Homo sapiens: one gene and its partners. The protein of the gene in region 3 interacts with the protein of the main gene of each other region in a biochemical or structural test. Each region holds a gene or a part of one and is shown on either strand. Other genes may lie near its edges.

Region 1 (8,106 bases), on a different chromosome or scaffold from region 3:
GTTTAGAGAATTTCTCTGGGTATGAGTTGGTTGTGTATATGATGCTCATAGTGAAGTGTATCTAGTCCCTTGTTTATCAGCTGCATCTCCCTCTGCCCACCAAGCCCTGAGGATTTATCCTATCCCCTACTGCTGGTTTAGAAGCTCATTAAACCCTTGCTCCTTCACACTTTTTTTTTTTTTTTAAGTACTCAAATTGCCTGGTACTAGGGAATTCTAGTGGTTATAAAGATGCTTACCAAATGGTTTTTGCCATTAAGGAATTTATCTTGTTGAGGAGGCAAGATGTTTCCTGCACACGATATAATCAGAGAATAGTTTTCAGTCAATATAGTAAATTAGAGAACAATTTCAAGTTGGCATATTAAATGGGTAGGTAATTCTTAAGGACAGAAGGGCCCAGAAGTTCTTTTGGAAGGTGCTGGACATATAGGTTAATGATCACCTGGAAAGCTTCCACATTGGAGGGGGCTGATGAGGAAATACAGCATAAGCTCAGGCAAGGAGAGAGGAGGAGCAGAGGAGCAGTGTATAAACTGAAGTGGTAAAGACTCAGAATGAGAGACAAGATGGCCAGAGTAGAGGGAAAAGAAGCATGCTAGATGTTGTGAGTGCCAGCACTGGGAATTACATCTGAGTTTAGGTATTTGGGGGCTCAGAAGTTCTCAGTTTACATCCTTTTGGGAATCATGGCGTTAGTCCATGAAGGAGGCTTGGACTGTTAGGCCATAGTATTTCCAGAACAACCCAATTGGTGGCTTAAAGCCGACAGTCCTGAAGTGTGCAGTATTTGAGCAGATAACTGCTCAAATTCTTTACTGCCAACAGCTTGAAGTAAAACAGGAGATTTTCCACCTGCTCCCTCACCCCTGTTGTTTCCAGATGCTCATACTAGCTGGTCTGCTCTGCTTGTTGCTGGATTGTGTTCCTTTTTTTCTTTTCCCTGCAGAGAAACCTTCCATTTTGTTTTGGCTTTGCAGGGTTTGGAGATAGCCCAAGGAGAAAAGGACCTGAAGCAACAGCTGGCCCAGGCTCTGCAGGAGGTAACTTTGCCATAGTACTAAGATTATAGTGGGCTGTGGAGTGGGGAGCAAACAGGCATCACATGACCACTGGCTGCCTCTGCTGCTTAGCCCATACCTCTGTGGCATCCCCAGTCTGTAAACAGAGCAGGTGGCAGCTGCTCACACCATCAGATCAGAGATTTGGAGCCTTACAAACATGCCAGACCTCAGCATGAAAACTTACATCTTTGTCTGAGCAGAAGTTGCTCTGGTGAAGATGGAATGGAGCTTTAGCAGTTAAGAGGCTCTCTGGGGAAGTGGCTCCACTTCTAGAAAGGTGAGGGCAGCAGAGGGAAAATGTGAGGTATGACTTGGCCACCAGGGCCCGTGAAGGCCTCTGTTACCGCAATGTTCCTGAGCTGTAGCCAACCAGAAACAATTGGGGAATGTTCCAGTTAAGCATTTTAGGCCAGGTTGAGAATGTGCAGTTTAACAATCAACAACACATATCAATTTATTGAAAAGGTAAAGCTCAACAGGACTAAAATTCTCCTAAAAGATTGCCTGTAATTTATTTAATTTAACCTGACTACTCTCATTTGATTATTTTTTTGTGTGCTCTTTTGCATCTTTAAAACCTACTATGTCTTCTACCTTTTATGTATTATGATTAGTAGTTTAGTGCCATTTAGTCAGGATGGTTCAAATCTCATTGGAAAGAGTGAGCAAATCACATAGGAATTTGTTCAGGGGAATTTATCCTTTTATCGTAAACCTACTTCCCAACCTTAACAGTGCTAACAGTCATACAGTATTGTAAGCATGACAGGGTGCCTGCCTTGATCTCCTTGAGGGTTGCACAAACAGCTTTGGAAAGAATTAGATGAAAATTAATTCAATCTTTTTAGAATTTTATTTTTTGAGCTTGTTTATTTTCTAGGGTGGGAGAGTAGGCATGTTTCCCATTTGGAACATTATTAAGTTAATATTCAGACATTGTTTTGAAATTGAAAAAGAATGTGGTTCTGCTAGTTGGAAATCCCTGAGGGATCACTGAGTACCCTGCACCCTCTCCTGAGACAGGAAAACACTCTATCATTTTGCATGGGATACTTGGCCATGCATTTATTAGCTTAAAATGTGATACTTTTAGACCGGGCACGGTGGCTCACGCCTGTAATCCCGGCACTTTGGGAGGCCCAGGCAGGCGGATCACCAGAGGTAGGGAGTTCAAGACCAGCCTGACCAACATGGAGAAACCCTGTCTCTACTAAAAATACAAAATTAGCCGGGCGTGGTGGCGCATGCCTGTAATCCCAGCTATTCAGGAGGCTGAGGCAGGAGAATCGCTTGAACCCGGGATGTGGAGGTTGTAGTGAGCTGAGATCGTGCCATTGCTCTCCAGCCTGGGCAACAAGACTCCGTCTCAAAAAAAAGTGATACTTTTAGGTCATGGTTCTATACCATCATGCCTGGGGGACATGCCACTCTCATGCAGTGGTGGTTTTTTGTTCCACCATGCTGATACTTTTGAAAGCTGTTCTTTACCAGACCATTATAAAAACTGTTTTTATAATGGTCTTTTATAACTGATTTCCTGTTTAAATCACATAATACCTTCCTCTCCAATCTCCAAGAAACTACCACATCTTTTTAAACCGAGTGATTCATAAGTTCTCAGGGAATTTGACTATAGTTAGAAATGGGTCCAGACCTTCACTGCCCTAAGCAGTCTGCCAGTCTTTGCTTTGAGTGGAAAAGAAAATAAAAAGATGTGTTTATATACAGCTCAAAAAACTTCTCTGAATGCTTTTCATACCTGTTATTTTCTTATGAACACTGAGGGAGGAGGGGGCACCTATTTTCCCATTTCCTTTTATTTTTATTTTGAGACAGTGTCTCGTTCTGTCACCCAGGCTGGAGTGCAGTGGTGCAATCTCAGCTCACTGCAGCCTCCGCCTCCTGGGCTCAAGTGATCCTCCCACTTCAGCCTCCTGAGTAGCTGGAACCATAGGCGCGCGCCACAATGCCCGACAATTTTTTTGTATTTTTGGTAGAGATGAGGTTTCACCATGTTGCCGAGGCTGGTCTCAAACTCCTGAGCTCAAGCCATCCACCCGGCTCAGCCTCCCAAAGTGCTGGGATTACAGGTATTATGAGCTACCACGCCCGGCCATATTTTCCCATTTTATAGATGAGAAAGTTAAAATACACATATCTAATTAGTGTGTCAAGTTGAAGACCCAGGCCTTTTGACATAACTGCTTTTTTTTGTCAGGAGATCACACATTTTAAAATTTGGTTCTTGAATAATATCTTTTCAAAAATACTTACCTTTACTCCACCTTCTTTTAAAAAGAATTTGAGGTGAGATTCTAAAGTATAAGCTATACTTAAGCATGAGAGAACTCATAAATTATGTTTCATATATGTGGAACCTCTTGACATTCAGCATAGGCATTTAGTCACAATGAATGAGCTGTTAGCTCCTGGGTGTGCCTTCTTCCAGAAAACACTGGCAGGGTTCAGGCAGCATTGTCTGAGCATGTAATATGTGATTTGTAGAACAAATAGGTTAAAAATCTTTTTTATTTCAATAAAAATGACTATCTAATTCTGCTGATTCCCATTTCCTCCTGATTATTTCATAAAAGCTGCTTCCAGTTCTGAATAGCTTTTAATTACTTACTAGTTCTTAAATACTGTTCCCAGAATCACTTGGGTGGCTTTAAAAAAAAAGAAAAAAAGAAAAGCACATTTCTGGGCTCCAAGCCAAACCTATAGAAGCAGACTCTGGGACACAGTGAAAGTTCTTCAGTTGACTTGGATGGCCACCAATGTTGGGTTAGTTTTAGAGGCCCTAGTCCATTTGGTGGCCGCCTTCCCTAACTGCCCTCTCCCCTGAAAAAAGCAGCAGGTAGGTAAGATAGCCCAATGGAATAAAGGTATTATTTTGAAATTGCCAATTTATCGATCCCTGAACCACAAAGTCACTAACTAGAGGGAGAGAACAGGCATGTTTGTGGCTAAAAGGAAGGATGCATTGTAGTTCATCCTGAGTATGTATCTGCTATGTTTTTGCAGCATTGGGCTCTAATGGAAGAGCTAAATCGCAGCAAGAAGGACTTTGAAGCAATCATTCAAGCCAAGAACAAAGAATTAGAGCAGACCAAGGTACTGGAAAGAAGATGGAAGTTTAGAATTTGGTTAGTGCATGCAACTCAGCATTTTCAACAGTGCAAGGGTTGCTAGGGAAAATAAAGAGAGAAATTATGGCTGCTCCTTGCCTCTGGGGAGATAATCTATAAAATTATAGAGGCCTATAGCAGGTTCTGCCTGTCAGACAACATCTATTTCCTTCCCTTGTTCAGAAGCAAAATGCTGGGAATAAGGCACTTGCATCCTGTATTCTAGTCCTTTGTCTATGGTGGGTACTCCTTCAGAGTGTGTCACTGATACAGACTGAGGAATATTGTAGTCAAGAAATAGTTCCTCCTGAACTATGTAATTTGAATTACATAAAGTAAAGTGAATTACTTAATGCAGTTTCTTCCCATGTCAAATCAGGAGAACTCTTGAATTAGGGGTTATAAACTTAAATGCCCACCAGGGCCAGACTGGTAATCAAAGTGAGTGAAGTGGCCTGAATGTAAGAACACAGTAGGGAGCTGTGCGGGCTATGGCTTATTGGATGGGGTACTTGCCCACACCCCCATCCCAGGAGGCAACTCTTCTCTGCTCAGCCAATTGTTGCCATCCAGAAGTGCAGGCCCAGTGTTGTCAGATCTTCTGATTTTTCCACAGCAGATGAAAGTCCAAATGTTTAAGTGAAATATCCCAAATTTTAAATATTGGCAACAACTTCAGCTTTTTGTGTGTGTTTTAATATGAAGGCCAAACTAAACAAGTCTGCAGGGTGGATCCAGTCCACAGGCCACCAATTTGCAACCTCTGACTTGAAATTAATACCTGAGTCTGACTGCATCTGTCATCCCACCCCCTCCATGTACCAACCTAGAACTGAAGGAGGGACTTGTTTTAGCTGGTTTGATTTCCTGTTTAAATCACATAATACCTTCCTCTCCAACCTCCAAGAAACTGCCACATCTTTTTAAACCCAGTGATTCATAAGTTCTCAGGGAATTTGACTATGGTTAGAAATGGGTCCAGACCTTCTTCACTGCCCTAAGCAGTCTGCCAGTCTTTGCTTTGAGTGGAAAAGAAAATAAAACAATTAAAAATGAGCCAGCCACTCAAATATACCTCAAATGGCCTATCCTCTCCCCCTCAGGGGCTCTTAATGCTTTTTGTTTTGGGGGTGAAGTGCTAAAATAAATGTCTGCTTCAAGAGAGCATACGTAGGAGCCTCCTTAAAAAGTGTGTCCACACGCAGTCTGACCTCTTGGGGAAAGCCGGGGAGATGGTACTGCAGGCCTCTGCAGGAGTGGGAAGTGGCAGGTATCATAGAGCATGGAGCCTGAAGGTAATTCAAGAGGCCTGTCTCCAGCCTTCTGCCTCCAGAGGTGTACCTTACTTTACAGAAAAGGCAGCTGCAAAGAACACAGCAACTTTATAACTAATTCAAGTTTCCTGCCTCTGGACTATTCATGCCTCTTTTCTTGTCCAGTGAGTTTTTAATTGTTTGGGATAATCTTATGTAATGTCTGAACTACAGCTTGCTATAAACTACTTAATGTCCCATCTGGTCTTGGGTGGTTGGTGTGGTTAGTATGTCACCTGCATTTTTCTCATTTGATTAATTTTGGGGAAGGAGACAGAATTTGCAATGCAAATACTGAAAAAGTGGTGTTTTAGTCCATTCAGGCTACTACAAAAAAGACCCATAAACTGCGTAGCTTAAAAACAACAGAAATTTATTTCTCACAGTACTGGAGGTTGGGAAATCCAAGATCAAGATGCTGGCATGTTTGGTGTCTGGTGAGGGCTGTCTTCTGATTCGTAGATGGAGTCTTGCCATGTCTGTCCCTATATGGCGGAAGGGGCAAATGAGCTCTCCTTGGGCCCCTTTAAGGCCACTAACCCCATTTATGAGCATGGAGCCCTCATGACCTAGTCACCTCCCAAAGGCCCCACCTCTTAATACCATCACGTTTGAAAATAAGTTTCAACATGGGAATTTGGGAGGAAGCACAAACATTCAGACCATAGCAAGTAGGGAGAGGAAAGAAAGGAGGTTAGTGCTCTGTATTAGAAAACAATTATTGAAAAACAATAAGCCTTAGGGAAAGTGTTCTATTCTTAATGTTGCTGCACCAGAATGAATCACTCATTAAGACTGAATCCTCTTCTAAATAATTGACCCTGCTCCCTGTCCCATTTTGCATTTTTGTTGGTTCTCTGAATGACAGGTAGGATTGTGTGTCTTGCAGGAAGAGAAGGAGAAGATGCAAGCACAGAAGGAAGAAGTTCTTAGCCACATGAATGATGTGCTAGAGAATGAGCTCCAATGTATTATTTGTTCAGAATACTTCATTGAGGTAATTATGAACAGTTGCTCACCCCTTCTTTTTTTTTTTTTTTTTTTTTTTTTTTTGAGACAGAGTCTCACTCTGTCAACCCAGGCTAGAGTGCAGTGCCACAATCTCGGCTCACTGCAACCTCCACTTCCTGGGCTCAAGCAGTTCTTGTGCCTCAGCCTCCCAAGTAGCTGGGTCCCTTACAGGCACATGCCACCATGCCTGTCTAAGCTTTTGTATTTTTAGTAGACATGGGGTTTTGCCATGTTGGCTAGGCTAGTCTCGAACTCCTGACCTCAGGTGATCTGCCCACCTCAGCCTCCCAAAGTGCTGGGATTACAGGTGTGAGTCACCACACCCAGCCGACCCCTTCTTATTCTCCCAACCCTGAATGAAGCCTGGGCTACACAGGCTGCTTCTACTATAGGGGAACATTCTGAAGAGATTTTCTTCCAGGAACTTATAACTATTTGATTTCAAAGTCACCTCTAGAGATGACCACCTCTTATTTGTTTTTATAATCTTCTTTCCCTTCACTGTCCTTTTTTGGCATTTCATCTGTTCTTAAATGTTTATTTGGTATGATTAACATTTTGAGCTGCAATGAAGCCTTTATCTCTTTGTTGTTGAGGAGAAAACAGGGCCAAATTAGATTTTGGAAGTATCAGAATAAAGCTGCTCAATAAAAGCTATTCTTTCTTTACTCTGAATGGGCACTATGCCGAGAATATGCTTATAGTGCAACCTTTTAAACGAGGGGGTAAACGTCATTAAAATGTGGTCACTTTGGGAATTTACGGCCCAAGTTGAATATATTTCAGGGACTCTGAGGCTCCTTATGGAAATGAAACCTCTACCATTTGTTAGCCTATCATATTTTTGCACTGGCTTATTTATTTATTTGACAAATTCTGCTGTTTGTGACCAGTTCACCTTAGACCACAGATGTTAAATTCAAGTTGCTAAATGACAGTGCTATTCAGACTCCTTTAAAAAGAAGGCCAGGTGCAGTGGCTCACACCTGTAATCCCAGCACTTTGGAAGGCCAAGGCAAGAGGATCACCTGAGGTTAGGAGCTCGAGACCAGACTGGCCAACATGGTGAAACACCATCTCTACTAAAACTACAAAAATTAGCCAGACATGGTGGTGTGTGCATGTAGTCCCAGCTAGTCGGAAGGCTGAGGCAGGAGAATCACTTCAATTTGGGAGGCGGAGGCTACAGTGAGTCGAGATCACGCAACTGCACTTCAGCCTGGGTGACAGAGCAAGGCATGAAAAAAAAGAAAAAGAGAAAGAAAAATGTAGGCCGGGTGCAATGGCTCATGCCTATAATCCGAGCACTTTGGGAGGCCAAGGTGGGCGGATCACCTGAGGTCAAGAGTTCAAGATCAGCCTGGTCAACGTGGCAAAACCCCATCTTTACTAAAAATACAAAAATTAGCCAAGCATGGTGGCATGCACCTGTAATCCCAGCTACTCGGGAGGCTGAGGCAGGAGAATTGCTTGAACCCAGGAGGCAGAGCTTGCAGTGAGCTGATATCGCACCACTGCACTCCAGCATGGGTGACAGAGCGAGACTCCGTCTCAAAAAAAAAAAAAAAAAAAAAAAGAAAAACATATACA
Region 2 (8,066 bases), on a different chromosome or scaffold from region 3:
AGATACACACAGTTGCTTTCATAATCCCCTAATTTTATACTTACTTTAAGGACCTCTGTTGTAGGACTAATCCTATTTCTGTTGTGTTGGTAATGTGGTATACCGGCTAAGCTGCCTAATTGTTTTTAAAGACTAACGTTACTTTTTTTTTTTTAAACTAGGTTCCAATATCATTTGTGGATCGTGTTTATGGTGAATCCAAGTTGGGAGGAAATGAAATAGTATCTTTCTTGAAAGGATTATTGACTCTTTTTGCTACTACATAAAAGAAAGATACTCATTTATAGTTACGTTCATTTCAGGTTAAACATGAAAGAAGCCTGGTTACTGATTTGTATAAAATGTACTCTTAAAGTATAAAATATAAGGTAAGGTAAATTTCATGCATCTTTTTATGAAGACCACCTATTTTATATTTCAAATTAAATAATTTTAAAGTTGCTGGCCTAATGAGCAATGTTCTCAATTTTCGTTTTCATTTTGCTGTATTGAGACCTATAAATAAATGTATATTTTTTTTTGCATAAAGTATTGCTGCCTTCATTAGAGTATGTGAATGTAGAATTTTTTACATGGGGAATAATTTGAAATAGTCTTTTTAAAAACTGGAATCATAGATCTTTATACCTAATTGATCTCAGAAGTAAGATAATGTTAACTGATGAAATGTTTATGGCTGTGTCTGTATGAATTGAAAAAGAAATACACACCTCTGCCCTTTCCTTAAAAATGTATCTCAAATTTCTTAAACTAGAAAATACATTTAGAGCAGGCATTTACAGTTCGGTTCTTTTCAGCTGTTGAATTGATGAAACATTTCATCTATCAAAGCAGGTCTATTTAAAATGCATATTGTGAATTGGGAAACAATTTGACAGCAGTTGATTACATAGCCGTTTTTTTCTCTTTTGAGCAATAACCTCTATCAGTAAGGAAAAATATTAATGACACTGAGGCAGAAACTTAGCTGCTACAGTAATTTTTAAACATCTTACTGAATTATATAACAATTTTTTTCTCAAAAGACTTGTTTTCATATTATTTAAAGACCCTCAGCAAAGCTCACATCCCTACTAATTTGAAAAATCTCTGCCTTAAGCTCTTCTCTCCATTTAGAAAAGTGTTCTGCCAGTTAAAATTTGGGCTAAGCTATCCAATAAAGCCAGGGCAAATATTATGTTTACCCACTTTCTCTAAAGTAGGTATTTCAGAAGAGATCAGTTAATTTCTAACTGTAGCATAGGTTATGGTCATGTAGTATCTTTTAAAATTTGAGTAAGGGCATGCTTTGAGCAAGTAAGTTTAAGTTGACTTTCTTCTGGAAATAAAAGTAAGAGGTGTCTCTAAATTATTTATTGAACAGTATTCCTAATTACTACATTTTCCTGGCTTAACTTGGCTGCTGAAGAAATTGAGGCCCAGCACAATGGCCCATGTCTATAATCCCAGCACTTTGGGAGGCCAAGGCAAGAGGATGGCTTGAGCACAGGCATTTGAGACCAGCCTAGGGAACATAGGGAGATCCTGTCTCTACAAAAATATAAAAAAAGCTGGGTGTGGTGGCACTCACCTGTGGTCCCAGCTACTTGGGAGGCTGAGGTGGGAGGTTCACTTGAGTCTGGGAGGTCAAGGCTGCAGTGAGCTGTGATCATGCCTGGACAACAGAGTGAGACCCTGTCTTTTTTAAAAGAAAAAAAAATGAAAATCTGATTTTTCATTTGCATTTCTCTCTGACAGATTCTACCAGAAATGAATCCCAGACTATAAAACCTGTGGTGTCATTTCGAACATTAAAACCACCCCCTCCCACGCTTCTATAGTTGAACCCATAGTACACATTCCAATAAGGGCCACTCTTGTTCTGTTTCCCTTATGTCCAGAACTGTCCAGCTGGCCAGTGAGGGAACTGCTTTCCTTAGGGAAGAAACTTCTCTCATTCATAACAAGAAGAAAATTCATCAGTGCTTGATGTGAAATTAGTTTTAAGCTAAGATAATAGAAATGTAATATTCTCAGTTTTTTTGGAGTGGTTAGAATTTATTTTTTCTTAACCTAAACTCAAAGTTGAGTTCTCAGTGTCAAGTATGTGGAGCAGAAATTAAGTAACAACCTTAGAGAACCTAATATAGATAGTACTGCCTTCTCAGATACTCACTAGAGTAGATAATGTTTGCCTTTTAAATCTTTTTAGTTATTCACACAATCATTATCACAACACTGTCACTCTTGGAATTTACCATAGAGTATTTGAGCAGTGAAGACTCATAGCATTTGGAAGTCATTTAGAAAAGAATCTGGAATATTTAGATGCATTTTTGTAGTAAATCTGGTGCTTAAACACTGTAAAATTAAATATTTACATCTGAATCCAGCATCCCATTTTGCTTTGTAAATGAGGCCAAAGATGAAATCCAGATGTTTTCCCTTGTATTTGTATTATCACTATATGGAATCTAAGTATATCTAAGAAAAACTAAACTTAAACTTACTTTGCTTATTTCATATTAGTTTTTATCTGTCTTCTGCAGTGTGTAATTAGATTCTTTAGTTTTCTGAATCAAATGCTTTGCCCCAACCCCTTTTTCCACGACTTTTTTCAGCTGTTTTCCCTTGAAATACTGACTTGGCTTTTAAAGATACATTTTATCACAATTGCAGAAATGTGTTGTATAAAAGTTTGTTAAACAGGGCTAACTGAAGTCTTAGATGTTGAACAGCTATGTGTAACCACAATTTATACTACTTGCAGCGAACTCAGATTATTTTCGGATGTTAAGTATGGCTTGAAACTATGTTAACTTGAAATGTAAAGAAACAGCAAAAGACAGGTGTATTTACCTAAAGATCACATATTAAGGAAACAGGCTTGGTTAATTCCTCACTATTGACATCTATTACTTGTCAATACATTTAACCAACCAATGATACTTTAAATCATAATGTTACTTTGAACAACCTACTTTAAAAGGTTGGTTCAAAAATGTTGAGGAGATAATGTATTGGTTGGGATTGACCTAAATTTACAAAGCAACCATGTGCTGTCTTATGCTACCCAGATTGTGGGAGCACCAAAAGCTATGTCCCTAGGACTACAAAGTGTGTTGTTTAAGGATCTTGCAGAGAGCCAATGCCCCTATTGGCAACATCACTTCTCATCCTTAAGTTTCACCAGTTGGGTGGCCTCAAGGCACTAGGATTCCCATTTTTTTTTTTATTCAGGTCAGAGAAGAGTCCATCACTGTGACTGGGAAGAATGTCAAGTCACAGGGTAACGGCGGACCTTAATAAAATCTCGGCCCCTCTGCACCGAATACCCCACCAGGAAGGGCTAAGGCATCCATGGGGTTGTGTCTCATCTCAAGTCGCTGTGTGAAGCACGAGGCCCTCACACCTCATTTAAGGCAGGAGGCGTCAGGGGCGACCGGCCAGGTGTCCCGGCGCCTTCCCGCCGCTTCTCAGCCGTGGAAGCGCGGGCATCTGAGCACGTGGAGCCGCCCCAGGCCGCCCCGCACACCCCTCCCGCCAGATGTAGTCCAGGCCCAGCTGGGCCCGCGCAGGGATCCCCAGCACGGCCACCTGACTGAGTGCTGGGCGTGCTGCGGCCCGCTGCTTCTGCCTCCGCCGCCGGCGCTGCGGCCAGAGGAAGGCGCCCGCCGAGCACACGGGCCCCGGGAGCGCACTGCGGCCATTATCCGCGGCGCCTCCTAGTGGGTCAATGGCAAATCCGCCTGGTTCTCGCGAGAGCTCCCCCCTCAGTGGGGATTATATAATTTCCCTCAAGCGGGGGTGGGGGTGCTGAGAGCACCCTCCCTCAGGAAAAGTTAGGTGCAAGCAGGGGTGGGAGTAAGAGGAACCCCCCCTGGGGAAAAGGGGGTTAGGGGTGCTGTCCCCACTGCCCCCCCCTATTTAGCTGGACAATGAGTCCTCTTATGCTAATGAGGCACTTACGTCACTTCCGCTCTTTCTCGGCCGCCATTTTGGCTAGGGCAGGTTCGGGGACTCGGTCCGAGGCGCTTGTATTGTCTGCTGAGGGGAGACGCGGGATCAGCCCCCTCCCCCGCCCGTTGCCGCCGCCGCCTCCGCCGGCCCGGTCTCCCCTCCGCCGCCCGCCGGGATCCATGAGCTGAACTCCCGCCCCCCCCCCCCCGGCCGCCGCCATCTTGTGCCCCCTCCCCCTCCCGCAGGCAGCGCTAAGGGGGATTTTGGCGTCTTCTCAGACACAGCTCCCTCTCTCGGTCCCCGCTGCTGAGGAGCGAGAGGAGCGCGGCCGCCGCCGCCCGCGCCGGTGAAGCCGCCTCTCCCACACCCTCCGTCTCCTCCCTCCGCCCCTCCTTTGTCTGCACCGCTCGACGACGCCGCCGCCGCCCGCCGCTCTGCTGCGCCCGCCGCGCCCCCCGGCAGCACCCGCGGCCGCGGCGCGAGCCGGAGTCCGCCGAGCCGGAGCGCGACGAGGCCCCGGGCGCGCCCTCCCCGCTGCCGCCACCGCCGTGCCGCCGCCATCCGCCCGCCGCCGCCGCCGCTGTCCGGCCCCCGAGCACGCCGGCCCCGCGCGCGCCTCGAGGCCGAGTCAAGGTAAGCCCGGCGCCGCCGCGCGCGGACCCGCGGCCCTGCCCTGCCTGGCTTCCCGACCCCGGCCCGCGCGGCCGCCAGTGCAGCCTGGCCCCGGGCGCGGGCGCATTGTTGTTCGCATCGCCGCCCTCCAGCCGCACACACGCTCCTTTGCACACCCCGGCGCCGACGGGTCCCCCGTCCCGGCACGGACCGCTACCCGACTCTGCTCCGGAGGTCCAGGCGCCTCCTCCTGCAGCCCGACCCCCTTCTCCGCCCTGTGAGCCCACCGAGGCCAGCACTCTGCCTGGCCGCCCGGAGCTTTTGCAGCTAAGGGCATCTCCCCCAGCCAGAACCGAGCTTCTCCCATCCTGGAACTAATCCCGTCCGCCCCCCACCCCCAAAAGGAGCCCCCCCACGCACACCCCCATGCCTTGAACCAGCCTTCTGCCAGGTCTGCCCACCCTTACCTGGGGGAGGGGGGACGGGGTTGGGGGGGGCGGGGAGCATGCATGGCATGGAGTGAGTCTTTGCCTCCCCTGTGCAATCCTTCTTCCCCAACCTGCCAGCTTTCCTCTTATCCTGACCACAGTTCACCACCATCCCTTTTCCCCAATCTCAGCTGCCTGGTCAGCACCTCTTTCGAACATTCTGAGCCCCAACTTTGCAGTAAGGTGGTAGAAAATGGAAATCCAGAGAGCTGCAAAAAGATTTTTTTTTAATGTAATGAATGGGGAGTAGTTTTGTGAACACACTCGTATTCACCTCTTCTTTCCTCTGGGAGGCCTGCCTGCCTTCCCCTCCCCCCCAACCTTGATCCCTGTCTGCTGGAAAAGGCGCGATTGCTTCTCTTCCTCTTCTGCCCAAGACCAAGACTCTAGGTCTGATATCCTTTTTAGCCACACACACACACCCCCCACACACGAAGTCTTCTTAATCTTCTTGAATTTACCAGTTACTCTGGACACTTCTTGCCATAACCCCATTTCACAGACAAAGGCTTAGGAGGGAAAAAGAACCAAACTGTTTCTGTGTTTGTCATGTTAATGATGTCCATCCCCACACACCCAGTTCCCATCCCTGATGCTTCTTGTGCCTGTATCTTGAACCTTCAGAATGAAAAAAAAAAAAATCTCTTGGATAGCTTGATACAGTTTCTTTAGAAATCTGCATTGTTGCTTCTGGTTTATGGCCATGGAGAAAATACCAGCCCCCACCCAAAATGCACCGCAGCCAAGTCGGCTAAAGGCGATGAGTGTTGGAGTCAGTAGGGGGCGCATTCTCTGCACTGGGTAAGGCTGCAGAGGGGGGAAGGGCCCCCGAGCTAGAACAGGATGTGCTTCACAGCGCCTTCTACAGACCATGGGAAAATGGGCCCAGCAAGACACACTCGCACTCTTAGTTGGTGAGCTGACAGCAACATGGCGAAGGATTAAGTGAGTCAAGAGCAGTGATTTTACTTCTTTTAAAGAGCCCACCCTGCATTTTAGAAGTTTTCTCCTTTTACTTTTTCAAAACTGTTGGCCCCCAGTCCATATTTGTTCTTGACGAATCACCTTGGCACATCCTTGGTTCGGATTCCCTTCCTCTGGAGTTCTTCCACCTCAAGTTTTGAATGTGTCACCATATCTTTCCTAAGTCTGGTGGTAAAGGAGAAGGTTTGAAACAAAGTAACAGGTTTGGGGGCATAGCTGGTTAACTCCCTTCTTCATAGGCCAAATCTTTCCAATTCTTTGAGAGTTAAAAATCATTCTTGAGAGATGTTGGATTAAGTGTGTAGATGGGTGTCATGATTTGCAAAGCCTTGTTGGTAAACATCAAGCCCATGTTGGGTTCTTCATTGTCGAACTCAAGTGTTGATTGTAAAAATTTCGTTTCCCTCCAAATTTGGACTTGTAATTGCCATTCATTATCTCAGCAGCCAACCACCTTTACAAAAATGTTGATACCAGTCTTCTGTGAGCACCCACCTTCTTAGGGTGTGTTGATTTCCATAGATTTTACTCCTCTTGTTATTTCCATAGGTGTGAGATGCACAATGCGAAACCTAGGCCCCAGCTTTTACACCATGATGCGCAGGGTTGTACTTTTTGTACTGAACTGATAGGTGGCCTAGTGGTTATGCCCTGTACTACCATTTTGAGGATCTGGACTCCGTTTCCTGCCTTGCTCTTTGGACCACATTGTCAATTCACACCGGTGGGTATATTCATTTTGGAGGGTGGGAACTGCAGCAACAGGGAAGCCAGAGACTTCCTTCTCCTTGGTCACCACCAAAACCAACACTTCCAAAATTTCAGCCTAGCCACATTCCTCAAGGAACCGGTTAGAGCTGGTTGCAGTAGTGGGTTCTGAACACTTATTAACATAAGAAATTACTTACAGCTTTTTTAAGAGAAATTTTTACAGATGCTAATATTGTAATCATTTGCATTCTACACCCCTTTGTATAAAGTATAAGTATTCAGTTACTATTACTTTGATAACCCAATCTCTAGAGTTGCTAAGCTTCTAAAAGCCTTAAATGTCTGATGAAAACATGGTTTTCCATGAACTTGTTCTTGCTACCAAAGATTGACAGTGGTTGATGTTTGTGGGTACCTTTAAGACTTTGTATGTTACATAAATACACCAAGATAAGTTTATGGAGAACTGAATGGGTGTATTCTTTGATACCTAGTTAACCAGTTGGTGCTTAACAGGAGAATTTTTCATTGGAGAATTGCTACCAGGTAACATTTTGGTGAGTGAAAAGGAGGCCCTTTGGTACAGGTATTTGACTAGAGACATTGCTTCTACAATTTCTTAGTCATTGTGAAAAATCACATATTTAAATGGGATTATTTAAATTTTTAAATACTGTATAGTATTTGTAGGCAGGTATAGTTTTTATCTTTATTTGGTGTTTTATATGCAGTTATTTAAGTTCTGAAAATGACCATATAATTTGAAGACAACTTATTTGACGGAATGTTTGAAATGAAGTTTGTTGAGGGGCTTTTGTTTGATTTAGCGAATGGGATACAGTGTTGAATGATGTCCTAAGTGGTAACAGCCATTTTCCCTTAAAGGAAAACTTGCTGTGAGCTCTTAGAAAGCATGTATTCTACTGTTTCAAAGGTTTCTTGGTTTTAACACTCAAAAAATAAGGTGAGGCCAGGTGAGGTGGCTTACGCCTGTAATCCCAAAACTTTGGGAGGCTGAGGCAGGAGAATCACTTGAGGCCAGGAGTTCAAGACCAGCTTGGGCAACATAATGAGACCCTGTCTCTACCAAAAAAAAAAAAAAAGTGAAACAATTGGGCTTGAAGACTGGAATTTATAGTAGGTAAACTATATACTTCATTAAAGTATAGTAAAAGGTTCAATTAACTAGAGTGTGGGGAATGGGTATTCTGTTTAACTGAACTTTAAGTAGAAATTCCTTTTTTATCTTGGCCTTTGTTGAAAAATTTCCTGAGACTAGCTTATTAGGAGCTATATATTGAAACTAACCTCTTTGATTTTGGTTTTTATAGT
Region 3 (8,106 bases):
TTAGGAGAGGGGTTAGTGTTGTCATGGAGTCTGGGCTGTTGGGATGAGAAACTTGGTTTCATCCTTGTGTAGAGTAGGGGGCAGATTTCCATGCCCTTGCCCAAGGTGAGGGCGGAGTTGTGGTGCTGGTAAGGGGACCCTGTCCTTCTGAGAGGGGCATGAGAAACAGTAGTGCTGCCTAAACATTCTGGGTTCCACGTCTTGGCCTCCCATTGGCCACTTGGGCTGGGGCTGCCTTTCATGTTGACCGGGAGCTGCGCAGGAGCTGTGAACTCTGTCCTGAGCTGTAGCATGACCCACTTTTTCCACTTGCCACACCCCATTCCTGTCCCTTTCCTAAATCTTCTCTATATCTCAGTAAGTTTGCGGTTTGCCATTTCAGCATATTATTTGCCTGAGAAGTTTGGGGGGCTCCATGTGCATGGAAGGATGTCCCCTTTGCCTCCATGGGTTGTCTTTGTCTCCACTTCCAGCTTTTATGGGGGTGGTGAGATGTAGCTGATGGGGGTTGGGGGTTGACTTGGGGATTGGTGGGGAAAAGTCCTTAAGAAAATGATTCTTTCTGGTGAAATCCAGGCTGATGTTGCATTCCCAAGGGGGAATGGGAGGGGCGTTCTTGTGCCTGGTCTTATTCTGGGCTGAGAAGCAGGGAGGCTGATGGTGCTTTGTCCAGCCTAATGTCTCATTCCCTAGTATCTGTCTAGCTCAGGAAGTGGGGAGCCAGAGACATTTTAGGGCTAATTTTGGGGGTTAAGAGCTAAGAACATGTCAGGGATTGAAGGAGGGATATTATTTTCTTTTTTATTTTTGAGATGGGGTCTCACTCTGTCGCCAAGGTTGGAGTGCAGTGTGCGATCTTGGCTCACTGCAACCTCCGCCTCCCGGGCTCAAGCGATTCTCCTGCCTCAGCCTCCTGAGTAGCTGGGATTACAGGCACCCACCACCATGCCTGGCTAATTTTTGTTTTTTTAGTAGAGACAGGGTTTCACCATGTTGGCCAAGCTGGTTTCGAACTGACCTCAAATGATCTGCCCGCCTCAGCCTCCCAGAGTGCTGCGATTACAGGCATGAGCCATTGCACCCGATTGGGATATTCTCTTCTACCACTGTCTAGGTCCTGCTCTGTTTTTTTGTGCAGACATTCCCATATGTTGGATAGGAATCTGGGTGGGAGTGGTGAGGAAGCTGAGCTTCAGAGACTTCTTGTGGGCCTCCATTCCTCAAACTAAATCTTTTGGGTATCAGAAATTTGGGGAGAAGGTTGTATGCGCTGACCACAAGTCCACTGAGCCTTTGTTAAATCTCAGCTCTGATGATTGAAAAAATAATTATGATTGAGGGAGTGATCGAGTTCTTCTCTTAGTATTACCTTCATGTTTGTCTCGCTTTCCTTGGGTTTCCTTGCTTAGGATGTTAGGGTGGGCTCTTGTGAACTGTTGTCATCCCAGAGTAGGTGGCATTTGGACCTGGGGCCAGGTAATTTGGGGAGGCTTCTATGAGGGCAGTCTCCCCCCCCGCCACCCCACCTCTCTCAAACCCACCCCCTCCCCTGCCACTTCCTGTCTGTCCTATGTTGGCAGCTGGGTGCCCTGGGCTGGCTTCTGCGGTCAGGAGCCATTTTCCCTCTCCTCAGTGGGTGAGGCACTCCCTTCTTCTCTCCACTCCTTTCTCTACCCACCCCCCTTTGGGCGGGGGTGGCTTGGGAAGAGGGAGAGAGGAGGGAGGAGGGAGTCGGAGCCAGTGTGAATGTCTGTTACAAAGGAAGCTGCCTCCTGGTCTTCTCTGTGTCCCTTCCCACCTATCCTTGCCCAGGAGCTTTCAGTCTTACCCAGGCTTTGTGTGTGCCTCCAGCCAGGGGAGGAGGTGGAGCCAGATGGGAGGAGGCTTGCTGGGGGGCGGGTGTAGGGGAGATGGTGACAGCTGGGCTGATTCGGGCCCCTAGGGAGAAGAGGCTGCTGACCCAGGAGAAGCTGAGGAGGAACATTAGGGTTGGAGATGGGGAAAGGAAATTGTATTTTAGAAGTGGGCATGAGATTGAGCTGGCACCTGAACCTAGGACTTGGAGGTTCTGGTTAATTTGAGCAGTGATGACTTCAAAGTGGTTAGAGAAGGGTGTGGTTTCCGAGACCCCTGAACTGATCCTGTTCTGGGAAGGTATATTCTATAGTTTTTGCCTTCTGAGTAGGATCTTTCATTCTCATTCCCTGGTTTATAGAATAACTTGGTGGCCAGTTACAGGAGGCCTAAATCTAGTTCTCTTACTTGGTGAACTCTGAGCAGCTCAGTTCAGCTGTACTGGTGAACATCTAGAGGACTGGTAGGAACGGGAGAGAGGAGGCAGGGGTCTGGACAGCTGCCCGAGGTGGGCCTGGTCTGGCCTGGCAGGCCTATTTCGGGTATATACAGCTCTCTCTTTGTCTGTTTTTGTCCTGGGTATCAGCTTCCTCCTGTACAGAGTATAGCAGTTCTCTTCAGAGGAATCTGGGACAAGAGGTGGGGAATAAAGTCTAAAGCCTCTGGATTAGGGCCTAACCTTTTGCTATTGATCTTTTCCCTGCCTACCACTCTTTGCCAAATATATGTAGAAAATGAAGAGGACCCAGAAGAGGATTTGTCAGAAACAGAGACTCCAAAGCTCAAGAAGAAGAAAAAGCCTAAGAAACCTCGGGACCCTAAAATCCCTAAGAGCAAGCGCCAAAAAAAGGAGGTGAGTGGGTGACTGAATGTTACGGGGAATCAGAGGAAGAAGGGAGGAGCTCTGAGAAGGGTTGAAGGGCTGAGGGCATTTGTTTCTTTCTCAGAAGTGGTGGGCCATGTTCTGGGGATGAGCCTCAGGGCTGTCCTGAGGTCAGCATGTGTGTAGCATGTGTGTGTCTGTCTCCCTCTTCCCCCCTTGCCCTGCTCCAGCGTATGCTCTTATGCCGGCAGCTGGGGGACAGCTCTGGGGAGGGGCCAGAGTTTGTGGAGGAGGAGGAAGAGGTGGCTCTGCGCTCAGACAGTGAGGGCAGCGACTATACTCCTGGCAAGAAGAAGAAGAAGAAGCTTGGACCTAAGAAAGAGAAGAAGAGCAAATCCAAGCGGAAGGAGGAGGAGGAGGAGGAGGATGATGATGATGATTCAAAGGTGCCTGGACCTCCATCCTCTTCTTTGTACTGTTAAACTTTTGTCTTTTTGTTTCCTAGACACCTTACTGCCCTTTAGAACACTTTCTCTTCTTTTCCTCTTAACTCTGTTACTCTGATTTTTCCACACAAATTTGCTTAGCAAGTGTGGGCACTAGGTGGCAGGTACTTACTTGACTTTGCTCTTTCTGCAGGAGCCTAAATCATCTGCTCAGCTCCTGGAAGACTGGGGCATGGAAGACATTGACCACGTGTTCTCAGAGGAGGATTATCGAACCCTCACCAACTACAAGGCCTTCAGCCAGTTTGTCAGGTAAAACAGAAGGGGTTTGGGGAAGGGGGAGGAGAATCTTTCTGTTCTCTCTTCTTACTTCTCTTTCTTTTTTTATTCTTAAACCTTTCCCTCTGCTCTTGTGCATTTCTCCACCAGACCCCTCATTGCTGCCAAAAATCCCAAGATTGCTGTCTCCAAGATGATGATGGTTTTGGGTGCAAAATGGCGGGAGTTCAGTACCAATAACCCCTTCAAAGGCAGTTCTGGGGCATCAGTGGCAGCTGCGGCAGCAGCAGCGGTAGCTGTGGTGGAGAGCATGGTGACAGCCACTGAGGTTGCACCACCACCTCCCCCTGTGGAGGTGCCTATCCGCAAGGCCAAGACCAAGGAGGGCAAAGGTGAAATGGGGTTCAAATGGGAGTGGGGGTGTCTAGTGTGGGCTTAAGATGTCAAAGACAGCATGGGAATGCTGGTCTGTCAGCCCTAAGGTAGGAGATAGGAGGGAGGAATGAGTCTTGGATTTTGGAGGGAAATTTGGGAATCTGAATGTGGGGAAGCAAGCTTAGGTGGAGAAGATTTTATTTTCCCCATCTTTGGTCTTGTGGTATATATTTGGATATATCCTGATTTTAGGTCCCAATGCTCGGAGGAAGCCCAAGGGCAGCCCTCGTGTACCTGATGCCAAGAAGCCTAAACCCAAGAAAGTAGCTCCCCTGAAAATCAAGCTGGGAGGTTTTGGTTCCAAGCGTAAGAGATCCTCGGTGAGAGCCCAGCCCATCGCTTTAGGGAGGGTGCCATGTCTAATAGAAAGGATGTGACCTTCTATCAGAACCTGTCCTTCATAGTAGGCACGTAAGAATGTGGGGCGTTTCCCACAGAACAAGATGAGACTAGGCTCCCTGTATAACGGTGCTTGCTGGGATTCTGGTGTCCCCAGTGAGAGAGTACTCCCCTCTCTGCCACTCTGTCCTTCCCCTTGGCTTGAACGTCTAACCTTATTCTTTTTCATCCTGCCAGAGTGAGGATGATGACTTAGATGTGGAATCTGACTTCGATGATGCCAGTATCAATAGCTATTCTGTTTCTGATGGTTCCACCAGCCGTAGTAGCCGCAGCCGCAAGAAACTCCGAACCACTAAAAAGAAAAAGAAAGGTGTGTTTCTCTTCTGTATATTTGTGATGGGATGAGGTGGGAGTGATTGGGGAAGAATCTCCCTAAGGAGATAGGGGTCGGGGGGTGGGGGGAGGTAGTTTTTTTCCAATAACTGGGCTTTCCCTCTTCCTTGCCCAGGCGAGGAGGAGGTGACTGCTGTGGATGGTTATGAGACAGACCACCAGGACTATTGCGAGGTGTGCCAGCAAGGCGGTGAGATCATCCTGTGTGATACCTGTCCCCGTGCTTACCACATGGTCTGCCTGGATCCCGACATGGAGAAGGCTCCCGAGGGCAAGTGGAGCTGCCCACACTGCGTGAGTGTCTGGCCATTGTGGCCCCTTGGAACCCATGAGAAGAAGGGTGGGACAGTAAAGCTCTTCGGGGCCTGGATGGAAATGGAAATGCTGGTGCTGCGGGTTGTGAGCTTTGGGAAGCATTCAAAGGAATGATGGGCACTGGCTTCAGACTGCGGTGGGCGGGTGGGGGTAATAATCTGAATCTGTGGTCCTTTACTGCAGGAGAAGGAAGGCATCCAGTGGGAAGCTAAAGAGGACAATTCGGAGGGTGAGGAGATCCTGGAAGAGGTTGGGGGAGACCTCGAAGAGGAGGATGACCACCATATGGAATTCTGTCGGGTCTGCAAGGATGGTGGGGAACTGCTCTGCTGTGATACCTGTCCTTCTTCCTACCACATCCACTGCCTGAATCCCCCACTTCCAGAGATCCCCAACGGTGAATGGCTCTGTCCCCGTTGTACGGTGAGTGACTGATCTCAGCCGGGGCAAAAAATGGGAAAGTGTAGTCTTTTCTATGTAGGCTATTGTGAGGCTGGGGTGCAGGAGAGGAACTATGAGCTTTTCAGCCCTGAGAAAGGTATTCTCCTTCATCCTATAGTGTTGGGATACTTTTGTCCTGGGAAAATATAGGACTAACTTCAAACTGAGGAGTTGATGTTTTGCCAGCTCTCTTAAGAGGAGATGAAGCAATGTTCTTCTAGCTGAGAACATTTGTCCCTGTGTTGACACCCTGCCTCAGGGTCTTGGTAGCTTACAATGTTTTCAATTTTTTTGTTAAAAAAATTTTTTTTTTTGGAGACAGGGTCTCATTCTGTCATCCGGGCTAGAGTGCAGTGGTGCAGTCATAGCTCATTGCAGCCTCCAACTCTTGGGCTCAAGTGATCCTCCTATCTCAACCTCTTGCTGAGTAGCTAGGAGTACTGGTGCATGCCACCACATCCAGCTAATTAAAAAAAAAAAATCTCTGTTGAGACAGGGTCTCACTATGTTGCCCAGGCTGGTCTTGAATTCCTGGTCTGAAACCATTCTGCTCCCTTGTCCTCATTAAGTGCTGGCATTACAGGTGTTTACCACCATGCCAGCCAGTTTAGAATGTTTAATAGGGCCACTTACTGCTTTAGATTGCTTAAGGGAGGAATTCTGTGCTCTAAGTCTGTTGATTTCCTGATTGTTCTGGCTTATTGTTAAAGTCTAACTACTGGCTCTGTTAAGCAGATAGGAGTGATGGTGGCACGCAAATCCTGGACGATGTCCAGAAATGGAGAGGGAATTCTATTACAGGTTGAGCACCCTAATCCAAAAATGTGAAATCCAAAATACTTCTGGTCCCAAGCATTTCACATGAGGGGTCCTCAACCTGTATTTTCTCCCTGGAGGAGTCCTGGGATTAGATTTTATTTGAAATGAGATCTTTTTTTATTTTTTTGAGATGGAGTCTTGCTCTGTCCCCCAGGCTGGAGTGCAGTGGGGCAATCTTGGCTCACTGCAAGCTCTGCCTCCCAGGTTCAAGTGATTCTCCTGCCTCAGACTCCCAAGTAGCTGGGACTACAGGCGCATGCCACCACGCCCAGCTAATTTTTGTATTTTTAGTAGAGACGGGGTTTCACCATGTTAGCTAGGATGGTCTCGATCTCTTGACCTCGTGATCTGCCCGCCTCGGCCTCCCAAGGTGCTGGGATTTCAGGCATGAGCCACTGCTCCAGGTCTGAAATGAGATCTGAATCGTCCTTTGATGAAGTTGAGACTGTGGGCTGTCCCTTCTCCTCCCATGGTTATGATTTGAGATTAAGTTGTCTCTTTTTCTCTCAGTGTCCAGCTCTGAAGGGCAAAGTGCAGAAGATCCTAATCTGGAAGTGGGGTCAGCCACCATCTCCCACACCAGTGCCTCGGCCTCCAGATGCTGATCCCAACACGCCCTCCCCAAAGCCCTTGGAGGGGCGGCCAGAGCGGCAGTTCTTTGTGAAATGGCAAGGCATGTCTTACTGGCACTGCTCCTGGGTTTCTGAACTGCAGGTAAGTTTAGGATAGTCTGGAGATGTAGGGGCTACGATGAAGAGGATAGTGACAAAAGAGCCTTGTGGATAGAAGGAATGAACACAGCTTCTTGGTGGCTGATTTTCTCTTTCCGCTCAAAGCTGGAGCTGCACTGTCAGGTGATGTTCCGAAACTATCAGCGGAAGAATGATATGGATGAGCCACCTTCTGGGGACTTTGGTGGTGATGAAGAGAAAAGCCGAAAGCGAAAGAACAAGGACCCTAAATTTGCAGAGATGGAGGAACGCTTCTATCGCTATGGGATAAAACCCGAGTGGATGATGATCCACCGAATCCTCAACCACAGGTACCAGCTGAGCACACGGGAGACGGGCAGTCTCCGTGGGAGAGTCCTGCTAAAGAGATTGGGAAAATGGCTGTCACCAGTAACTTAGACTTGGAAGACACTGGTTTTTTTTGTTTGTTTTTTGTTTTTGAGACAGAGTCTCACTCTGTGCCCAGGCTGGAGTGCAGTGGCGTGATCTCGGCTCACTGCAACCTCTGCCTCCCAGATTCAAGTGATTATCCTGCCTCAGCCTCCTGAGAAGCTGGGACTACAGGCGCAAGCCACCATGCCCAGCTAATTTTTTGTATTTTTAGTAGAGACAGGGTTTTCATTCTGCTGGCCAGGCTGGTCTTGAACTCCTGACCTCAGGTGATCTGCCTGCCTTGGCCTCCCTAAGTGCTAGGATTAACAGGCGTGAGCCACCACGCTCAGCCTTATATATTTATTTTGAGACAAATTTTAGCTGTGTTGCCCAGGCTTGAGTGCAGTGTCGTGATCACTGCTCATAGCTGTCCCAAACTCCTGGGCTCAAGCAATCTGTCTGCTTCAGCTTCCCAAAGTGTTAGGATTACAGGCGTGAGCTACTGCGCCTGACACTTCATGTTATTATCTTTATTTATTTATTTTATTATTATTGTTTTTTTTTGAGACAGACTTGTCACCCAGGCTGGAGTGCAGTGGCGTGATCTTGGCTCACTGCAAGCTCTGCCTCCTGGGTTCACGCCATTTTCCTGCCTCAGCCTCCCGAGTAGCTGGGACTACAGGCCATCGCCACCATGCCTGGCTAATTTTTTTTTTTTTGTATTTTTAGTAGAGACGGGATTTCACTGTGTTAGCCAGGATGGTCTTGATCGCCTGACCTTGTGATCCGCTCACCTCCTCCTTCCAAAGTGCTGGGATTACAGGCGTGAGCCGCCGCACTCGGCCTATTTATTTAT
Region 4 (6,137 bases), on a different chromosome or scaffold from region 3:
GAGTTGTCCCAGGGAACTCACTTAACCACTGAAGTGTTCAAATTGCTTAAGGTTGACTTTATATTCTCCTGACTAACCTTTCTCCTTCTGGTATTTCTTCTGAGAACAGCACCACCATCCAAAGCATCATGCAAACAGTGGTCATCCCAGACCAGTAATTCTCAACTCACAGGGTGCTCCTGCAGAGATGTATTTGAATAGAGTGGTAGGATGCTGAAGAAGGCCACGTAAAATTTGGCCAGTGATCTGGGGCAGATTTATCCTGAAGCTAATGAAACACAAGTGTAAGGGCCTGTACTTCCAAGGTGCAGAGAGGGGCCCTACAAATGTGTTAGTTTGTCTCTCTCTCTCTCTCTGATTTTAAAATTTGCAGTATTAAGGTACTTTAATCACGGATGGTTCAGGCTGCTATTTTCACTCAATCCTCCTTTTTATTAAAATCACCATTGTCTGATTATGTTAGAATCCTGATGAAAATATTTGGAATTTGAGTAAGAGAAAGTTTAGTTGAAGATGTATCTAGTATGGGGATAATAAGTTACGTGATTTGCATATGTGATCATGTGTACTTCATTCGTTGCCAGCCAATCTGACGTAAGAATGGCTTCAAGGAGGCCGGGCGCGGTGGCTCACGCCTGTAATCCTAGCACTTTGGGAGGCCGAGACGGGCGGATCACGAGGTCAGGAGATCGAGACCATCTTGGCTAACACGGTGAAACCCCGTTTCTACTAAAAATACAAAAAATTAGCCGGGCGTGTTGGCGGGCGCCTGTAGTCCCAGCTACTTGGGAGGCTGAGGCAGGAGAATGGCATGAACCTGGGAGGCGGAGCTTGCAGTGAGCCGAGATTGCGCCACTGCACTCCAACCTGGGAGACACAGCGAGACTCCGTCTCAAAAAAAAAAAAAAAAGAATGGCTTCAAGGAATGTTCCTACTGCTCACTGGAATAACTCACCTAAATTCCTGGCAAGATGCAGGTCTAGATAAAATGTTATGACATCTAAGTATTCAAAACACATTCCCAGCACTGAGAGTGAGTGTCTAGTGGAGAGTAGAAACGTATAGAGCCAGAAGCTAGTCTGGAAAGAATTCTTACAAAGTTTACAACTTACATGTGAAAGGAGCTTAACAGAGGATTTTCCAAATTTGAAAACAATCCTAAAAACTTACTTGACATTACCAATAATGTGTTTTGAAACTGAAATACTTCTAAGTTATGAAGAAAACATATTATCATCAGCCACCCTGGAGGAAAGATTGAATTCTATTTCCATTACCTATAGACAACATTACAAAATAATTTCGATCTGAAGATGGAATCAGAGTATTCAGTCAAAACTACAGGAAAATATACTTGGTAGTGTCATATTCAGAAGTTAATAAAATATGCTATTTTCTGAATTTTGTGATGGCTGTTGTTTTGTCAGCTTTTATAAAATTGGAATTTGATTTTATTTTCCCATTATAAATTTATATTTACAGTCTGCAGTACTTTTGCATTTTTAATTTTACATTATAGTTTTTAATAGTTAACAAGTTGTAAAAGGTTTGATCCCCAGAAAACCTTGATCTACCCCATCAGTTAAGTATACTAATATATTTAGAAAATGGATGAAATCAGCATTTGAATATTTTTAAATATTTATTAAAAGAGGACATGGGTAAAAGAGCTTTGCAGTTGCCACCCTTCATTCTCAAATTCCCTGGATAAGGATGACCGCATAATCTTTGGATGGTCATACGCAAGTCTTGTGTACTTGTTACATAAATCTATTTAGTGGACTTTTGGCAGTGTGTACTGAGGCCAGTTTCTTCCACCTGAGCTCTGACTCCACCTCCAGCAGCCCAAAACCAATACTGAATTTTGGGGTCAGCTATTGTTTTTGTGGACTTAGGTAACTACACACACATTGTCTTTATGATAGCTTTAATAATACTGCCATCAGAACTAAAATTGTCACGTGGATTAAAAGGAGTGACGGTGGTGTCCCCAGGAGCCTTTCAATATGTAAGTATTTACACATATACATGCTAAAAAGACCCCTAGGAATTTTTTAACAAGGGCAAAACAGTAACTCAGCTTGTTTTCTCGCAGTAAAACCGGTTGAAAAGGCCTGATAGACTTGTCTGCAGTTACAAAACTTGTGTGTAGTTATCACCTTTATATCTCCTGGAAACTAACATAGACAACCGAATGGGTTACAACTGTTTTTAAGTGAAATTGTGAGTGGCTCTGAAAAGAGCCTTTTCAATGAGGAAGAAACGGGCAGACTTATGCCCTTTCCCCACGGATGCGACGTGCCAGCTGGATATCTTTGGGCATGATGGTGACGCGTTTAGCGTGAATAGCGCACAGATTGGTGTCTTCGAAGAGTCCCACCAGGTAGGCCTCACAAGCCTCCTGCAGCGCCATCACCGCAGAGCTCTGGAAACGCAGGTCGGTTTTGAAGTCCTGGGCGATTTCTCGCACCAGGCGCTGGAACGGCAGCTTCCGGATCAGCAGCTCGGTGGACTTCTGGTAGCGACGGATTTCGCGCAAGGCCACGGTGCCCGGGCGGTAGCGATGAGGTTTCTTCACGCCACCGGTGGCCGGAGCGCTCTTACGGGCTGCTTTAGTAGCAAGCTGCTTGCGCGGAGCTTTGCCGCCGGTAGACTTGCGAGCTGTTTGCTTCGTACGAGCCATTTGCAATGAGAGCACACACAAAAGTGTAGTGAACTGAGAGCAAGTGGCCTTTAAATATAGTGAGAAACATTCTGATTGGTCCTGTAATATTTCAAAAGTCCCGCGCGATAAAATCATTGGCTGAAGAGTGACCAGACTGATTGGTTCATTACTAGACAATCTTATTGGATGAGTTGCCCCACCGCCCATCCTGTCCTTTTCGTTTCAGTTATCTGCAGCGACAAATTGTCTAAAATTCTAGTTCATCCAGTCCCAAAGAACAGAGTGTATAACAAGGTATCTAAGGATTTTTAAAATGTAAATTCCGATTCAGTAAGTTTGAGTGGGACTTGAAATTCTGCATTCCTGACAGTCTCGCAAGTTATCAATGCTGGTGAACACTCACTAAACCACCAGAAACGTTCAGACTCATGTCGGGAAATAACGCTTATATTCAGAGAATGAGATTCCATGCTATTTTGTTACTGGCGAACAGCAAGTTTCCTTGCCCTTTGTTTTCTAAGTCCAAGTCACATTCCCACCCTGCCTGTTCTCAAAATGTCTTATTTTGGTTGGCCTTAAGTTTCACTTTGTATACTCTAAAATGTACTTTCTAAAGGAAGGTGTTATTTTCTCGAAACTTAACTTTTTAACACCATTAGGCTAGGGGGGCGGTGGCTCACGCCTGTAATCCCAGCATTTTGGGAGGGCGAGATGGGACGATCACTAGAGGCCAGGAGTTCAAGACAACCCTGGCTAAAATGGTGAAACCCCGTCTCGCATAAAAATACAAAAACTAGCTGGGCGCGGTAGCAGACGCCTGTAATCCCAAGTACACAGGAGGCTGAGGCATGAGAACCGCGTGAAGCGGCGGGGTGGAGGTTGCAGTAAGCCGATATCGCGCCGCTGCACTCCAGCCTGGGTGACAGAACTAGACTGTCTCAAAACAAACCAATCCAAACGAAAAGCAAAAAATACCCTAACAGAAGCAAGTTATCATCCTTTCTTGTGTAACTATGGACGGCTCTGAAAAATGCCGTTTCAAGTGTAAGCTACGTTTTCTGATTTGAGTGTTTACTTGACCTTGGCCTTATCGTGGCTCTGTTATTTTGGCAACAGGACGGCCTGAATATTGGACAGGACGCCTCCCTGAGCAATAGTGACGTTGCCCAGCTGCTTGTTGACCTCCTCGTCGTTTCGGATGGCCAGCTGCAGGTGGCGGGGGATGATGCTGCGGGTCTTGTCACGTATGGCGCTGCCCACCAGTTCTAAGATCTCGGCGGCCAGGTATTGTAAGTACACTGGCGCACCGGCTCCGACCGGCTCAAAATAATTGCCCTTTCGAAAAAGATGACGGACTCTGCCCTATTGGGAACTGCAAGCCCGGTAGCGACGAACAAGTTTTTGCTTTAGCTCCATTTTCCACGTCCGCAAATAGCGACCTATGAAAGCAGCGGAAAACTGTGAAAGACAAGCAAGCTGGAATGGCGCCTGAACAAATCCTTTTATACAAACTGCAAGGCTGCAATAGGAAGCTATCCTATTGGTCAATTATGTTTGGTGCTTTATCCAATAGAAAAAGATAACATAAATTCCATATTTGCATAAACCCCACCCCTCAGTGAAACCGTGTTTCTTTTGTCCAATCAGAAGTGAGGAATCTTAAACCGTCATTTGAATCTCAGGACTATAAATACATGGGCTCTGAACTGTTCTCTGTACTACTCTGTAGTGGAGAGTGTTAGTAGCTTTTCTATTCTGTTTAGGAATAGCAATGCCTGAACCCTCTAAGTCTGCTCCAGCCCCTAAAAAGGGTTCTAAGAAGGCTATCACTAAGGCGCAGAAGAAGGATGGTAAGAAGCGTAAGCGCAGCCGCAAGGAGAGCTATTCTATCTATGTGTACAAGGTTCTGAAGCAGGTCCACCCCGACACCGGCATCTCATCCAAGGCCATGGGGATCATGAATTCCTTCGTCAACGACATCTTCGAGCGCATCGCGGGCGAGGCTTCTCGCCTGGCTCACTACAATAAGCGCTCGACCATCACCTCCAGGGAGATTCAGACGGCTGTGCGCCTGCTGCTGCCTGGGGAGCTGGCTAAGCATGCTGTGTCCGAGGGCACTAAGGCAGTTACCAAGTACACTAGCTCTAAATAAGTGCTTATGTAAGCACTTCCAAACCCAAAGGCTCTTTTCAGAGCCACCTACTTTGTCACAAGGAGAGCTATAACCACAATTTCTTAAGGTGGTGCTGCTGCTATTCTGTTTCAGTTCTAGAGGATCAACTGGAATGTTAGCGAAGACAAGTTTTAGAGCCAAGGTTAACTTGGACGGGGCCGTGCGCGGTGCCTCTTGCCTTTAATCCCGGCAATTTGGGAGGCCGAGGCGGGCGGATCACGAGGTCAGGAGATGGAGACCATCCTGCTTAACACGATGAAACCCCGTCTCTACTAAAAATACAAAATAATTAGCTGGGCGTGATGGTGGGCGCCTGTAGTCCCAGCTACTCGGGAGGCTGAGGCAGGAGAATGGCGTGAACGCGGGAGGCGGAGCTTGCAGTGAGCCGAGATCGCGCCATGGCACTCCAGCCTGGGTGACAGAGCGAGACTCCGTCTCAAAAAAAAAAAAAAAAAAAAATTAAAAAAATATGAAGTTTTGAAGCAGAAATTATTTTGTCGTATGTTCTTTCATAAATTTTTTGCCTGCCTGCCTTCTTCCTTTGTTACAGAACTCCAACACTTACCCAAAGGTAGCTGTTGGGTCAGGGTTTCTGTACTATAGTCCCTTCTGTGGTGGCCAGAAATATGTTACAGGAAAGAGGTCCCCATCCAGACCCCAAGAGAGGGTTCTTGGATCCCGCGCAAGAAAGAGTTCAGGGTGAGTCCGCAGTGCAAAGTAAATGCAAGTTTACTAAGAAAGTAAAGTGGTGAAACGACAACTACTCCATAGACGGAGCAGGACATTCCCGAAAGTAAGAGGAGGAAGGCATCCACCCTAGGTACAATACTTGTATATATGGGGAGATGTGCTCTGCTACAAGTTTGTGATAAAGGATTAATTTTCTTAGTTACTATATTTTGCAAGAATCAACATTATTATCTTTAAACAAAATTAAGAATGCCTTTGTTCTCCAGATATAGGGATATCTGGACACTCCTAAGTCTGAGTCTGTTTAGTAAACATTATTTATTTGTTCCCTTAACCGTAAACATCTAGAAGCTAGGAATGACTGACTTTCTGGGAATGCAGCCCAGAAAGTCTCAGCCTCATTTTCCTAGCCCTCACTCAAAATGGAGTTACTCTGGTTCAAGTAACTCTGACACTTTTCTTCTCTTTTTTTCTTCTTTTTTCCTTCCTTTATTTTTTATTTTTTATTTTTGAAATAAGAAATCAAGAATACTTGATGTTTCATCTAAAACAATACCCATAATTGATAAGCCAAAACAAAAACCTAGGTCTTCTAACTCAAAACTAGGA

The links.
Region 1: the proteins of CHD4 (region 3) and RNF8 form a complex in vitro, tested with the Homo sapiens proteins (one study listed by BioGRID).
Region 2: the proteins of CHD4 (region 3) and ADNP form a complex in vitro, tested with the Homo sapiens proteins (2 studies listed by BioGRID).
Region 4: the proteins of CHD4 (region 3) and H2BC3 form a complex in vitro, tested with the Homo sapiens proteins (one study listed by BioGRID).

What each region holds. Positions count from the first base shown.
Region 1 is NC_000006.12:37,370,532-37,378,637, forward strand, and holds part of RNF8 (E3 ubiquitin-protein ligase RNF8), read left to right. Parts: intron 1-980; coding exon 981-1,043; intron 1,044-4,088; coding exon 4,089-4,178; intron 4,179-6,394; coding exon 6,395-6,502; intron 6,503-8,106. UniProt on the Homo sapiens protein: E3 ubiquitin-protein ligase that plays a key role in DNA damage signaling via 2 distinct roles: by mediating the 'Lys-63'-linked ubiquitination of histones H2A and H2AX and promoting the recruitment of DNA repair proteins at double-strand breaks (DSBs) sites, and by catalyzing 'Lys-48'-linked ubiquitination to remove target proteins from DNA damage sites.
Region 2 is NC_000020.11:50,927,332-50,935,397, reverse strand, and holds the start of ADNP (activity-dependent neuroprotector homeobox protein), read left to right. Parts: upstream 1-3,960; 5' UTR 3,961-4,572; intron 4,573-5,060; exon of another isoform or gene 5,061-6,572; 5' UTR 6,573-6,579; coding exon of another isoform or gene 6,580-6,747; intron 6,748-8,066. Other genes in the region: DPM1 (dolichol-phosphate mannosyltransferase subunit 1), read left to right, coding at 162-266.
Region 3 is NC_000012.12:6,596,977-6,605,082, reverse strand, and holds part of CHD4 (chromodomain-helicase-DNA-binding protein 4), read left to right. Parts: intron 1-2,585; coding exon 2,586-2,707; intron 2,708-2,907; coding exon 2,908-3,123; intron 3,124-3,316; coding exon 3,317-3,435; intron 3,436-3,552; coding exon 3,553-3,794; intron 3,795-4,029; coding exon 4,030-4,157; intron 4,158-4,413; coding exon 4,414-4,549; intron 4,550-4,687; coding exon 4,688-4,866; intron 4,867-5,070; coding exon 5,071-5,310; intron 5,311-6,657; coding exon 6,658-6,861; intron 6,862-6,983; coding exon 6,984-7,189; intron 7,190-8,106. UniProt on the Homo sapiens protein: ATP-dependent chromatin-remodeling factor that binds and distorts nucleosomal DNA. Acts as a component of the histone deacetylase NuRD complex which participates in the remodeling of chromatin.
Region 4 is NC_000006.12:26,041,957-26,048,093, reverse strand, and holds H2BC3 (histone H2B type 1-B), read left to right. Parts: upstream 1-4,380; 5' UTR 4,381-4,436; coding exon 4,437-4,817; 3' UTR 4,818-4,867; downstream 4,868-6,137. Other genes in the region: H3C3 (histone H3.1), read right to left, coding at 2,273-2,683. UniProt on the Homo sapiens protein: Core component of nucleosome. Nucleosomes wrap and compact DNA into chromatin, limiting DNA accessibility to the cellular machineries which require DNA as a template.